Homo sapiens: one gene and its partner. The protein of the gene in region 1 interacts with the protein of each later gene in a pairwise test. Each region holds a gene or a part of one and is shown on either strand. Other genes may lie near its edges. The genes, in order: ILKAP and MUSK.

Region 1 (7,845 bases):
ATAAAGGACAGAATGAAACATTGACCCTGCTTTTTTAGAAGAATCTATGATGTTCTCTTATTGATGATAAGAAGTTTCTTTACAGAATGCCCGCTAATACATGTGAAAAGAATCACAGAATATGGAAATCATCTTTGACATCCCTGATGAAATAATGATTTAGGGATGCTAAGACCATTAGGTGAAAGGCTGACAGGAAACAGAATATTCACAAGGTACCAGTGAACCTCCCCAGATTACCTGCTGATGACGCAAGGCAACAGGAGCATCCGGCTGTCACCACCGGAGCCAAGTGCTGGGATTTGGCAACTTAATTAAGGGTCACATTATGTGCCTACTGAAGTGAAGGACTACTGAGTATACAGCATCCCCCATAAAACATTGCTAAAAACATCTCATCTGAATCTAAAGAAGGTCTTACACCTAACTTCCAGTTTATAGGAAATATACAGAAATAACACCGTAAAAAAATACGCAGGTTCAGAATATTGGTGACTCTGTACAACTGCTGGCCTATAACATGGTTCAAAGCCTGGTAAGAAATGAGTCTCGGCAGGGTGCAGTGGCTCACACCTGTATTCCCTGCACTCTGGGAGGCCAAGGCAGAAGGATCACTTAGCTCAGCCTGGAAAACACAGACAGAGACCCTGTCTCTACCAAAAAATAAAAAAATAGCCAGGCACAGTGGCACATGCCTGTGGTCCCAGCTACTTGGGAGGCTGAGGCTGGAGGATCGCTTCAACCTCAGAGGTCAAGGCTGCGGTGAGCTGTGATCGTGCCACTGCACTCCAGGCAACAGATCAAGATTCTCTCTCTCAAAAAAAAAAAAGAAAGAAAGAAAAAGAAAAAGAAAAAGAAATGCCAAGTCCACGGCAGACATGGATGCTGACTAGACCCTGGTTTGAAACAAAGATACTTTGGGGATAACTCGGGAAATAAAAATATAGACAGGGTATTAGATAACTTAACCTAAGGAAATATTATTGTCTTAGGTGTGAAAATTCTCACTAATTATGTCAAGAACGTCCTTATCTTCAGGAGATGCATGCTTAAGTATTTAGGCTGTTATGTCATCATATCTGCAACTTTTAAACAGCTCAGCCTGACACACATCTATACAGACTAAACATGACACAATGTTCACTGCTAGTAGATTTGGAAATGTTTTACTATTGTCAAGTTTCTTCTGTATGTCTGAAAAATTTAATGATAAAAGCTGAGAGTGGGGCAGCCAGCCCTGGCCTCAGGCAGGAGAACAGACCACGACAGGGCTCTGCTGCTCAGGGGCAGCGACCCACGCTGCTGGTCTCTTAGCCTCAGCCCTTCTCTGAGATGAAGGAGTCACCCAAAACCCACACTGTCAAATGATTTCTCTAAGGCATGTAAACACTTCTCTGAATCAGGTAAGGACTGGGATATAGGAAGCAACTGCAACACAACTGGCCTTACTTTCAGCCATCGGACTGTCAGTATCCAATTATTTTCAAGGAGTTCAGGCAAAAGCAGAATGAATGTAAAACTTACAAGAAAGGGGAGAAGAGGTGATGCTTACGCTCATGTTAGAGTCACATTCTCAGGCATGACTGTCCACAGTAGTTACCAGGACAGTAGTTACGGTGGCAAAAACTGGGCCAACAGCACTGCTTGAGGCCTGAAACCAGGCCTATAATCCCATCACTGCTCATGTAAACTGCAGCGACCGTGAATGAAACTGCTTCTTACTAATCCAAGAGCTTTTTGAACAAACGCTAAGGGTTCCAACTACTCTCCAGAAACCTCCCTGTACCACTGACTAGATTCAGCCTGGAGCAATAAAAAAGGCTTCCCCAAATGAACAACAGAAGAGAAACTACACTTCAAAGGATAGGTAAGTGCAGTCTTATACTAAGAGATGACATCTCTCTTATCTCTGGCAGAAAATAAAATTTTAATAGTCAAACTGTACAACAAACCAGAAAATACTCCTGGTCTAATTCATAATGCAATGTCCTTGAAGTGGAATTCTAAAGAAAAGACTTATGCCCTCCTTTAGCTGCCTTGGATAGAAGCAGATAATAAAACCAGAGCAGACATATGGTTTTCAAAGATTTAAAGAGAGAGTGAAATGAAACTGCAAAAGACAGAGCCAAGTAAGACATGGTCCTCTGTGCCAGTTGTTCCCAAGAAGTCCAAAGACATTACTTAACCCGTCTTAACTACTTCAGATTTTCTCTCTGGAGAATTCACCTAAAACTGTAACTTATTCAATGTGAAAAGTGACAGGTTTTTTTTTTGGTTTTTTTTTTTTTTTGAGATGGAGTCTCGCTCTGTTGCCCAGGCTGGAGTGCAGTGGTGCGATCTTGGCTCACTGCAAGCTCCGCCTCCCAGGTTCACGCCATTCTCCTGCCTCAGCCTCCCGAGTAGCTGGGACTACAGGCGCCCGCCACCACGAAAAGTGACAGTATTTAAGAAACTTCCTAGGCACAGAGAAAACACTGTGAATGGTAAATATGAATTTGTCCTTTTGCAAATGTAGGGAGGCAAGTTTCCTTCCACGTGGACACATGTGAAATCTACAACTGTCATCCACCTATGTCACCAGTGTTAGATCTCAGACAGAGCCTCGTCACACTGAAGACTACGTAACAGGGGAAGTTCTACTCCTTGAAGGTCTCGGGACCCTTCTACAGCTAACAGCCCTCCTTCCCATGAGCTCCTCTCAGTCCCTTGGTTACCTGACGTTTCCTCCAGCCTTCTGTATCCTCATCCGCTCTTCATACTGAGTTGGATTATGCTCTTTGCTGAGGCTTAAGGCTGCATGTTTTTGACTCTCCTCATTATAACGACACAAGATTGCCTGGGAAGATGGAGATTGTAATAGTCATGAAATTCAGTGGGCGCAGCATCTAAAGGTACCAGTTGAAAAAAACAGTTAACAATGGAGTTTGAAGAAAACAGTTAACAATGGAGTTTCACATTCAGCCTCCTGCTGATAAACGTAAGTTCAGAGAATCAAGCAGCAAAGAAGTGTCAAAGACACAACAGTTAGGGAGAGAGTCGCCCCTGGTTTTGATATCAACTCTGGTACAAACTCTGCTGAATAACTACAGACAAGTGCTCACTCTGGCTGTTGTCACATTTGTGACATGAAAGGAAGCACTCAACAAGTATCAAGGTCCCTTTTGGCCTGGAGTCTAGAAGGCCAGAGACATGTCCATGAGCCTATGGAAGGCAAAGAGGAGGGCAAGCGTTGTGCATGCTGGCCGAGTGCCAGGTAGGCCGTCCACACCAGTGCCTCCAGGTGTTCTCGCCCCTGCCAGGTTCATTGTGTCTGTTTTACAGGAAGACACTGAGGCACGAAGAATAAGTAACTCAATAAAGTCACAGAGCAGAGCCAGGATTCAAATTTGGGTCTGACTCCTGTCTTTGTTTTTTTGCCAATTTTCCTCTTGCTATTTCTGAAGTCATGTGGTCTAAACACATGTGGGCTAAGGCCAGTCTACTAAAGGGCCACCAGAATGTAAACTCCACCAGGCAGGGGCTGTCATCTGTTATAGTCTCTGCCATACCCCTAGCACTTAGTATTTGATGAATCATCCCCCCAGAAGCATCGTGGGGAGGGGTCTAAAGATGCTGCTTAAGTGTGGACAGTCACTTGATTCCTGTGACTGCCTAGGGAGCAAGGAGGCCGGGTGAAAAAGCGGCAACGGAACGGAACACATGGTCCTGATGCAGAGGAGGCAGGGTCTGCATCCAGCTTTCCGCAGCAGCACCCTCTAGGCTTTACAGCATCCCCACGACTGTCACCAGGGGGAACAACACCCTGGGCTTTCTCCCTCAGCCAGGGACCGGGCTCGGGTGATGAATGGCACCTCATCTGGTATTTTCTAGCTACAGCTCTCAAGTTACTCTGAAATCACAGTAACTTTGATAGGCAGGGGTTAAAGCTTTTCATTCATTACTGTCTAAGGTCAGAGAAAGGAAATAAAAGAAGATTTAGGCTACTTGCATACTGATTACATTCTGATCCACAGCATCACACACACAAACCACGGGAGGAAAAAAGAAACAAAAAAGACGGGATCTGGGTTTTAAAGCACAAGTCTATCATAGGGCGTAAGTTCCCCAGAGAACAAACAGCCTCTAGCTGAGTTGCTGTTCCCTTACCCAGAAGTTAAACTGCAGCAGAACACTCTGCAGCAACCCCAGAAGAAAGGTTTCAACCAGACACCATCACTTTAATCTTATTCAACAAGTACGTGCTAAAGTCTTTTCCCCATAAAACGTATTGTCATCTAAGTGGGTGGCTCCAGAGCCACATACCCGACTATCTCCGAGGTTGGCAATATAAAGAATGTTGTCTACAGCCAGAACACACGTGGCAGTGGACCCATCTTTCCAGGCAGGCTTCCTGGGGGGAAACACATCAGAAACACAGTCACCACCAATAGCCCAGCACTTTGAGACTAATTTCCAGAGCTCAATGGGAAGTATCTTATATTTCAAAATGAACCATTTCCTTGATACTTGCTTTTTTTCTGTTTTAGATTTAGCTAACGGTTATAAAAGCTGAGTGCTACGCACTTTTCAGACAGTGAGCAATAGTGTTAAACCACATCAGAAGACTGAAATGCATTTAGGAAAACACCACACACAGTCCACTCAAACTTCATCATCAAGTTATACTTACTGGCTGGAAGCTTGTTTAAGGAACTCTTCATCAGTATGCTTGAAAGTGTCCAAAAGGCATCTCTTCACGGTTTTCTCTACACTGATTACATCTCCTATTACAGAAGGGCCAAAAGAAAACAATCTCTCAAGGAGGGAAGATTATCCTCCTCCCACTGTCATTTTGGTTTGTTTTTTGTTTTATTTTTTTGAGACGGAGTCTCGTTCTGTCACCAGGCTGGAATGCAGTGGCGCGATCTCAGCTCACTGCAACCTCCGCCTCCCAGGTTCAAGAGATTCTTCTGCCTTAGCCTCCTGAGTAGCTGGGAATACAGGCGCGCGCAACCATGCCAGGCTAATTTTTGTGTTTTTAGTAGAGACAGGGTTTCACCACATTGGCCAGGCTGGTCTCGAACTCCTGACCTCGTGATCCACCTGCCTCGGCCTCCCAAATGCTGGGATTACAGGCGTGGGTCACCAGGGCTGGCCATTTTGTTTTTGTAATTTCTGCACATCAATTGATTTTCAAGCATGATTAAGAACAATCCCTATTTCTTTCCTTTTTTAAATTTTTTTTTCTGAGACTGGGTCTCACTCTGTCACCCAGGCTGCAGTGCAATGGTGCAACTGTGGTTCACTGCAGCCTGAACCTCCTGGGGCTCAGAAAATCCTCCCACCACAGCCTCCTGAGCAGCTGGGACCACAGGCACATACCACCATGTCCAGTTAGGTTTGTTTTTTTTTTTTATAGAGATAGAGTCTCCCTATGTTGCCAGGCTGGTCTCAAACTCCTGGGCTTGAGTGATCTTCTGGCCTTGGCCTCCCAAAGTGCTGTGTGAGCCACCGTGCCCAGCCAGAACAATCTCTGTTTCTTTCCTCACATATAACACAGTGCTATTTGAAGTTGGTTTACTAGTTTTCCAGTAAAGGCAAGACACTAACTGAACCCAAAGACGATTGACAAAAGGTGCCTATCACTTAGAATCATGAGAAGTGCCATTCTAAGTCACACCTGCATGGCCGCTACTCCTGGAAGCCTTGGCATCCACTCCTCAGCACCACTCTTTTAAGACTCATCAATGATTCTCTGCTAAAGCCAAAATAACACATCTGACTGCTTCACACAGCCAACCAAACAGCAATAACCAATTTGAGTATCAACTGATTTAGTTCTCAGTCTCACCTTTAGGAAATTTTCTGATTAAGTTTTGATGCAAATTCTGTGCAGCAAATTTTGAGGCTCGAATTCCTCCATGTCCATCAAAAACAGCAAAATATGAAACCCGAGTACTGAAAGAACGAATTGAGAGTTAATCAAATTCTCACAGCAAAAACCACACTTTTCCATTAAAGCTTTTAAATTTCGTCTCAAAGAGTGAACATTAATAAGTCAGAGGAAGTCACACTGGTTAAGACACCAGTCACACTGTTACAAATGGGAAAAAAAAGGCTTTAACTGAGACAAATATTTAAGTAACTTTCACAGCATTTTATCTTTTTTTAAAAAAAAAATACTTGTGTGTGGGCCAGGTGTGGTGGCTCATGCCTGTAATCCCAGCGCTTTGGGAGGCCGAGGCAGGCGGATCACGAGATCAGGAGATCAAGACCATCCTGGCTAACACGGTGAAACCCCATCTCTACTAACAATACAAAAAAATTAGCCGGGCGTGGTGGCAGGCACCTACAGTCCCAGCTACTCGGGAGGCTGAGGCAGGAGAATGGCGTGAACCCAGGAGGCGGAGCTTGCAGTGAACTGAGATCGCACCACTGCACTTCAGCCGGGGTGACAGAGCGAGATTCTGTCTAAAAAAAAAAAAAACAAAAACACTGTGTGTGTGTAGGTGTGGGAGTGTTTCTGGTGAAGACTGCAAGACCTGCTAAAGGTCTAATATTCTAAAAGAGATGTAACACTTTTCCCAGTATTTTACATTAAATGTTTAAAACTCACATTTGCTTCAAAGATCAAGATCTGTTAATTCTGATTTTTCACTGACAACAAAACTAAAATTCAGAACTCCGTTCCTATTTAAATCGGATTTGGTTTTAAACATTAACAAACAGATCAAGTTATTTATCGAAAACAGTAAAAAATACAGTCATGCATCACTTAACAGAAATGCATTGTTAGGTGACTTTGTTGTGTGAACATCATAGAACATATTTACAGAAACTAACACGGCGCAGCTTACTACACACCTAAGCTACATACATGGTAGAGCCTATTGCTCCTAGGCTAAACTGCACAGCATGTTACTGCACTAAATACCATAGGCAGTTGTAACACACTGGTAGTATTTGTGTATTTAAACATACCTAAACATAGAAAAGGTACAGTAAACATGGTATTATGGCTGAACACGACAGCTCACGCCTGTTAATCCCAACACTTCGGGAGGTGGCCAAGGCAGGAGGATCACTTGAGGCCAGGAGTTCAAGACCAGCCTGGGCAACATAGCGAGACCCCCATCTCTACAAAATTTGTAATCTTATGGGAGCACCGTCATATATGCAGTCCATCACTGACTTGATGTTGTTATTCAGCACATGACTGCATAAGAGCAGGGAGGATATTACAGAATTGTTACTCAAATAAATTTTAAATATCTCATTTTTAAAACCTATCTTACTACTCTTATTCCCATTCCCCTTTCAAATTTTGCCAGAAAACCCACATATATGGAATAAAAGACATCAAATAAACTATTTCAAGGAAAAAAAAAAAACAAAAATGCCCACGAGAAATGACATTTATTCTAGAGAGCTGCTTTTCTTTCAAGTTTTTTGGAATTCCTTTTCAATTTAGGACATCCTGAGCCATGAGAAAAAAAACCTCATCTGGTTTATAACTCAGAGCTGTTCTTACTGCCTGTTATTTGCAAGGCATGATGTAGTGTTCCCAATTAAATTTACACTCAATGGATCTGCCTTCTTGGGCTCCAGAGGTCCCTTTCCTGGTTTTAATGCAAATCCCAGGCTGGGTATGGTGGCTCATGCGAGTAATCCTGGCACTTTGGGAGACCAAGGTGGGAAGATGGCTTGAGCCCAGGACTCTGAGACAAGCCTGAGCAACTTAAGGAGACACTGTCTCTACAAAAAATTCAAAAAATTAGCCGGCTGTGGTGGCACATGCCTATGGTCCCAGCTACTCAGGACGCTGAGGTGGGAGGACTGCTTGAGCCTAGGAGGTCAAGCCTGCAA
Region 2 (7,845 bases), on another chromosome or scaffold:
AATCTAGAAATTTCACTTCTAGGAGTTATAGCTAAAGAAATCACTTAAGATAAATGCTTACAAAATTTAGCAACAGGATGATCCAAACATTACATTTTATAATGGAAAAATAGAAATAAACCAAATGTCTAACAGTAGAATAGTTATGTCAATTACGATAAATCTGTATAATACTATTCAACCATCAAAATTAATGTTGCACATGAATACTTGTTCATGTAGAAGATGTTTAAGATATATTAAGTGATAAAAGCAAGGCTTGAAGTAATGTAGCAGTATGATCTTATTTTTGTTTAAATTATCTATCTATCTCTCTCTATGTATCATCTATCTATCTATTTACCTACCAACCTACTTACCTACCTGTCTATCTGAAAAAGCCTGGAAGAATATTATGATGTTAATGTTAATTACCTCTGGTTGGTGTTTTTTCATTTTTATTATTGTCTATTATGATTATACATATTATTGTATATTATTGCATATTATTTTTCTTTTCAAACATAATATATTACTTTTATAAGAAAATAAGTAAATGTTATTTTAAGGTAAAGTAAGTAGATGTGATCTCTTGTGTAAAGTATGAAAAAGGCTTAATAGGCTTTTTACAAGATAAATCCCATAATTCGATTAGAAAATGAACACAGCAGAAAAATGGGCTGTAGACAATTGCCAAAATAAAAACTGTTAATGACCTAGGAACAAGAAACATTCAACCTGACTAGTAATTTAAAAAATAAAATTAAAAAGAGGTTCTCTTTTTCTATAACCAAAGAGACAAAAGATTTCTAAAAAACAGAAAATTATCTATGAAAGCAAATGTTTAGGGCTATGAGATCTCTTGTACAATGTAGAAGTGGCAGTAATATTTCTGCAGAATATGAAACCACATAACAGAAGTGTTAATATTGTACATGCCATTTGGTCCAGACATTTCCTTTCTCTGAATTTTCATAAAAAGAAATGTGGACATGAACAAATAAGGATGTTAATTACAGCATTTTTTATAATGATAAAAATTGGAAAAAACCTAAATGTTCAAAAATACAAGATTGATTAGCTAAATTACAGTATATGAATAAAATAGAATATTATTCCAAAATTGGGTTTTTAGAAGAATATTTAATGACGTGGAACAGGTTCGTAATATACTGTAAAATGAAAAGAAAGTGTTCTTTTTCTGCTCTACCACGATAGCAGAGAATATGTTTTTGGGTGTCATGTGAAAAATACTCTGGTATCTTACCATGTTTGGTATTTGATCACTAAAAATGACTGCTGGTGCCTTACTGATATCTGTCCTGGCACTTGGTAACAGTGACACTGTGAGTGTCTCTCTTTTGTCTACCTTTTTGAATGTATATGATGATTCTACCATGAAAAAAAATCTTATTTAAAAAAGTAAACAATATTGGTGAATAATGCATCTATACTCCTGTGATTCAGAACATTAGATCGAGCACTTAGGGAATAAGTCAGTGATCTTAACTTGAAAATGTAATTAGAACTCATGAAAAAATAAACATGTCACCTATTAGATGTTATGATTAACTTAAATTGATAATGCTGAAATATACTTTTTTTGCTATTCATTAAAAAGACTTAGGAAGTTAATAGAATAAAATATAGATATAGAGTGTGCTTGAAACGACATGCAAATTACAAATCACTTCCACAGAGTTACTGAGGTTCAGTTATTGCTTCTATCATGTACAGAGGCTCTACAGTATAGTGGTTGAGAATTCGGCCTCTTTTGGTCAAAAAGTAGGCTCTGTTGCTGTGTGCACTCGGGCCAGTTGCACAATCTCTCTGTGACTGTTGGAGGCTGAGCTTGCAGTGAGCCAAGATCGTGCCACTGCACTCCAGCCTGGGCGACAGAGCGAGACTCCGTCTCAAAAACAAAACAAAACAAAGCAAAACTAAAATGTATATAATGATAGTACCAACATTACAGGGATGTTGTGAGGTTTAAGTTCATATATTTAAAGGCCTCAGAATACACATGGTAAGATTTCAATAAATGCTAGCTGATATTATAATTTTTATGATTACTGTTACTCTATTTTCTGTCAGCCTGACTTCTATGTCTGTCTTTTACAACAAAACTTTATCAGCGGAGAAAGCCCGAAGCTGTCTTTGAATTTTGCAGAGCATACATGAACCATCTAAAATAAGCCATGGATATCTATGCTCAAGTTCTAGACTTGCTGGTGGCCCTCTCCAACTTTTCTGCTTTGTTGGCATCTTGACTTTCTGCTTTAGACACACGCTGCAACTTTATTCTTTATTCAGTCATTTGGATTACAGTATCAATTTTGGACTTAGACTCATGATTTTTATCTGAAGCACTTCTTTAGGTCTCAGTCCTAAATGCTGACCTCGCTATTTATGAACCAGAACTGTGACTAAGGACCGCCTTACTGTCGTTGTATCCTACAGAATCTGTTCAGGTCTGAAATGAGAGGAAGGCCAGCTAATAGACAGGGTGGGCAACGGTAGAGGTTGAGTCATTGGCTCTTGGGTTGAAGGGAAGAGGATGTCAGCAGGAGGATTTTAGGAAGTAAAACTAATAGAAAACTGATGATGAAAGAGAGGGCAAAGTCTAGGAAAATTTCTACATTTTTGTCTTGGTTGCCTGGAGACACTATGAATAAGAAATGGCAGGTTTCCCACCAAAGATGTCAAGCTGTTACATGAGGCAGATTTGGGGATTTCAGGCAGAGTTTTCCAGCAGACAGCGAAAATCTACTTTCAAGAATTCACACCATTCCTCCAATGCCCTAACTACCAATTAGTCTGAATTAAGATAAGCTGGTATAGAGTAGACTGTTATTTTCTCTTCCCTGTTCGTTTTCAGGAGAATTTGGGTTCCTGCTATATCAGAAATAAACTCAGATCATGTATGGACTTAGATAAAGATGTATTGTGTGAGGATCCACTGAGAAAAAATCTGAACCCCCAGGAATCTGAGTTCCAGAGCTGCTGCTTTTTTTTTTAAATCATGAAATACAACAAAATCAGTTAATATGTCATGCACAAAGTTGTTAAGCAGAACGATATTAATTCTACAGCCAACTGAATTTGTTTCTAAAAGGAATAAAATGTCAGAATGCACAGAAATATCAGTTTTGAAATAACTCAGAGCCACAAGTGTATCTTGTGAAATCTCATATTATAAATTATGGTTTAAGAGATTTAAATAGACTCTAGTAATAATATTAATAGGTGAGAATGTTGAAATGTGTGGCTTCAAAGGCAAATGCAGGAAAAATAGTAATACTTTGCAAAAGGCATATACATATCAATCTACAATGGTATTTAAAATGTTATTATTTCTGCCAGAGTGTTTATTACATGAATGAAATAAAAGAAAAAAATAGCTTAATAACTAAAAAAGGACAGAAGTCCTGGAAAGAAGAAGAAATAAAGATTAAAGCAATGGAAAAGATACCAATACAATTTTTAAAGGAAAAGGTAAATCAGTAAGATACAAAAACTTGTTTCAAGAAAACTGGAGGAATAAAATAAGCAGACTTAATTCATGACAAATGCACAGAAAGGAAAAAAGGAGGGGCACAGGACAGAAAAGGGAACTCAGAGTTACAGGCTTGCTGATTTGCTGTTTCATTCCTTAGAAACCCTCTATCAATAAAATGTAACCACAACTCTGCAGAATACAAACAAATATAAAATTATGCATTAAATGCAAGAAAGATTTAATAAAACACTAAGACTCGTCTTTGGGGGGAGACAGAATGAGTGGCTTTTCCTTCTTTTTAGTTTTCTGTACTTCACCTAAGTGTCTTACATGACGATTAAGCTACTTTCACAATGGACAGGAATTAACTCAATTAAAAAATGAAGCTCTGAATCCCATTTCATATTAAAATTTAATACAGCAGAGCTTTACTCTGTGACCAGCTACTTTGGAAACTGAACAGGATGACATTCTTCCCTGTGCAGTGTGTATTACAAACCTTCATGAAGAAGAATAGTTGTCTCCATTATCTGACACATTTCCTAGCCTGTGTTTCCAATCACTGGCTTTCAATGGGTCCGTCTACCACATGGGTTTTGCACTGTCTTTGCTCTCCCTGGGAAGCAAACAACACACTACTCATGTTTACTCTTACTCTTTCCTATGTGGGTCTTGTTGGGCCTCTGGTGTAGGATTCCCCTGGCTCACAGAGTCTGAGAGGAAACTGCAGCATTTTATTTGAACGTCTTCAACCTTAGACACTCACAGTTCCCTCTGCCCTCTCACACATGCGTTCCAGAATTCGGTGAATACTGGTGAAACTGGGTCTGTCTGCAGGCAGCTTGCTCCAACATAGACGCATGAGATTGTACAGCTCCACGGGGCAGTTCTCAGGGCAGGAGAGGATGTTGCCATCTCGCACGTAGTAAATGACCTCCTCATGGGCCATCCCATAGTAGGGCTGCAGGCCATAGGAGAAGATCTCCCAGAGGACCACGCCATAGGCCCACACATCAGACTCTGTAGTGTAGCGGTTATAAAAAATGGACTCTGGTGGCATCCAACGGATAGGGATAGCGTCGTTTTCATTAGCTTTGTAGTAGTCTGCTGAGTAGATGTTCCTGGAGAGGCCAAAGTCGGCAATTTTCACCACCATGTTCTCGCCCACCAGGCAGTTCCTGGTGGCTAAATCTCGGTGAACAAACTTACGTTCTGAGAGGTAAGCCATGCCAGCTGCCACCTGCCTGGCAATGCAAAGCTGCTCAGCACAGGAGAGGGGTGGGGGCCCAGGGCTGGAGACCTGAGCCCTCATAGACAAGTCACTGTGACTGAGGCTGCACACGGTGTGAGGGGACATGCTGCGGAGGAACTCATTGAGGTCACCATAGGCCATGTATTCAAAGAGCAGGCACATTGGCTTCCCGACAGCACACACTCCTGGAACCAAAAGACCATCCCTGTTAGTCTCAGTTTCTACAATGAAACAATGGAAAGAGCACTCCAAAAGCAAACGACCATGTCAGAACATATGAAGCCCTGTTTTTTGTTGTTGTTGTCGTATGTTTGTTTTTTAATATTTGTATCCTTTTAATCACAACACAAAAGGAGTCTCAGCTAGGAAATGCACTCTGGGTAGTGGGGTTTCTGTCCCTTGGCTAAAGTTTTTGAGGACTTCCAGCAGAGCGCTGTTGTCCTGGGCACTTGTCATAAGTACATCGTACATGGTGCATCAAGTTCATGGTGCATATAAGTACATGGTGTATCAGTTCTCTGGAGTGGCTCTTCTCTCTGAAATCTGGAGGCCCTGGTTTTTTGTTGACAACACCATGGTTGAACCCTGACCCTATTTCTCTGCCTAAACATCTCCTCTTTGCCTTTAAGATTCAGTTTATCACTCTCCCTAGGGTGCCTCAGCTCCTGATCCTTCCAGTAACTGTTAGATTTTCCTACTGTCATCCTTTCACAGAGAACCTACCATCCTATTTTATAATCATTTGACTATTTGAGGTTTCTCCCCAACGTTTTAGCACTTTGAAAGGAGAGATTGAACCTTATTCTTCTTTAAAAATTCCCCACACCTACCACGTGTCTGGCAGAGCAGATGCCTCATAATGTTTGGTGAGTTAATTTATGAATGGATGCTTGCTCTGAGTATGTAATGTAATTGCTGTCTGTTTCTGTTTACTTCTATGAAGGATGTTAATAAGAAAGATGTATCAAGTTTGGAAACAATAACAAATACAATTCAAGTGTCTTAGATGAAGTATTTAAGTTGCTGCAGTAAAACATTTTGAAATTTAGGTTTTACAATGTTCATGCTACCAAAAAAGTTAATATAAATAAAGTCTTAGATTTAAAGCCAGAAGATCATTTTCAAATCTTAAAGTCTTGATATATTTGAGAGGGAAACTGGAGAACTTGGAATATTAGATAAGATGGGCATAATTTCACATCATCTTAAAAATAGATTATTAGATCTATTGGGTTTTTTCAGGCAAAAGTTAAAAGTATCTGTTTGAAAAAGAGGAGAAATGAGGAATACTGCTATCTTGGCTTATTTATTTTGGCATTAATTTTTAATTCCAAGGACCTCAATTAGCACATTTCTGTAAACTAAAGGGAAAAAATAAAGAAATACCAACTGGATAATACTTAGAAGTTTCTTCTGTGGGATCCTTTTTGGATAATCTTTAGTTAACAGGGACTTACCTATCTCATCAACTGGCTTTACCATTGTTATGCTGGTTGAGTTGATTTAAAAATAATTTCTTATACTGGAAAAAAATGACAAAATATTTCTCTGAGAAATAAAGTTTTGAACTAAATTGATTTAATGAAATTTTCCACTCTGATAAAGAAAATACTATACAAAAGATTTCTACTTTGTGATTATTATGAACAATTATATATACATGTGTATAGATATAATTTACAATTATATATGTATATACATTTATTTAAGACCTCAAAATGTTTTCTATATTGTAATTACTCCAACCCAACTCTTAGGTGGGACTTCAAAATATAATAATTATTGAGAGGAAGACTGTATTTTATTCATCCTTGTAACCTCAGGTCTAATACTACACATGGCTCACTATGGGTTTTCAATATATGTTGATGGGTGGATGGATGAATTAATGCATAGGTGGATGCATGGATAGATTTAAGGATGGATGCATAGATGGATGGGCATAAGAAAACCTCATGCCTAGCCCAAGCCATGTCTTTAAACTTTAGCATGACATCTTCAATGAATAATCTCACCTGATTGTTCTACTGTTTGCTCCACTGCCAGAATATTCCGTAAGAGTCTATAATATTCAATGCCTACTCCCATTCTAAAATTCTGCATATTTCTTTAGTTATACCATTTTTCCCAATTTATGACTACAAAACCATTATCCACTAGGATTTCAATAAAAGGGAAACAATTTTTAAGATACGAACATGTTCAATAAGTGGCTGATGTATCAAATATATAAAACAAAGTAGATTTCTTTTATTGATAGAAGTGAATTTTATGGATTTTCCCAATTCCCCTTTCTTCCACTATTGTCATCTTATTTCACTGGGATTAACTTACAAGAAACTATGAGAGTAGTGGAATCACTTGCATGAATGATTACTGCTTATGTATACTTGATAAAAAATAGAACCTGTGTTCATTGGATATCCAAATGGAATTTAGATATAGCATTTAACAAACGGCAACATAAGTTTCAGTTCTTGTTGGACAATAAAAATGAGAGAAAACTCCAAGTAGTGATGTATAAGCATGCTACTGTGGTTAAATTGGAAAACTGTACATAGTTTCTGTTTGAATCAATTTCAGGAATTCAGGATGTTATAAACTGTATACGAATACAGAGTCAACATTTTAAGAAAAGTTGAAACAGGAATTGCTTGATAATCTTGAAAATATGCATGTATGTATGTTTGTTTAATGACTAAATGTATACTATTTGAGAAAGTAAATAAGGAGGGTAGGGGGCAGAAGCCAGATTCAGATTTTTGTGTGATGAAGAATGAATAAATGAATGTTTAGGAGTTGAGGAAATGGAAGAAGTGTTTTCAAGATGAATTGTTATGTACTTAATATCGTTTATTCATTTATTGAACAAATATTTATAGAGTGCCTACAATGTGCCAGAAACTATTCGAGATACTACTATAGAAATTCTTGCTTTTAATATTTATCTAGATTCCTTCCAATATCCTGACCACTAAATTACTTTACTTCCTTTCCTTAGACCTCTGCCCAACTTCAGCTAATCACTCACATTGTCATACCCCTGACTTTGTCATTCCATACATTTGTATACCTCCCATAATCTCATTTTCAGTTACTCTACCTGTTGTTCATC

What was found.
Region 2: the proteins of ILKAP (region 1) and MUSK interact in a two-hybrid assay, tested with the Homo sapiens proteins (one study listed by BioGRID and IntAct).

Annotation. Positions count from the first base shown.
Region 1 is NC_000002.12:238,179,351-238,187,195, forward strand, and holds part of ILKAP (integrin-linked kinase-associated serine/threonine phosphatase 2C), read right to left. Parts: intron 5,938-7,845; coding exon 5,831-5,937; intron 4,764-5,830; coding exon 4,670-4,763; intron 4,391-4,669; coding exon 4,303-4,390; intron 2,837-4,302; coding exon 2,715-2,836; intron 1-2,714. UniProt on the Homo sapiens protein: Protein phosphatase that may play a role in regulation of cell cycle progression via dephosphorylation of its substrates whose appropriate phosphorylation states might be crucial for cell proliferation.
Region 2 is NC_000009.12:110,797,376-110,805,220, reverse strand, and holds part of MUSK (muscle, skeletal receptor tyrosine-protein kinase isoform 1 precursor), read right to left. Parts: intron 4,916-7,845; coding exon 4,233-4,915; 3' UTR 1-4,232.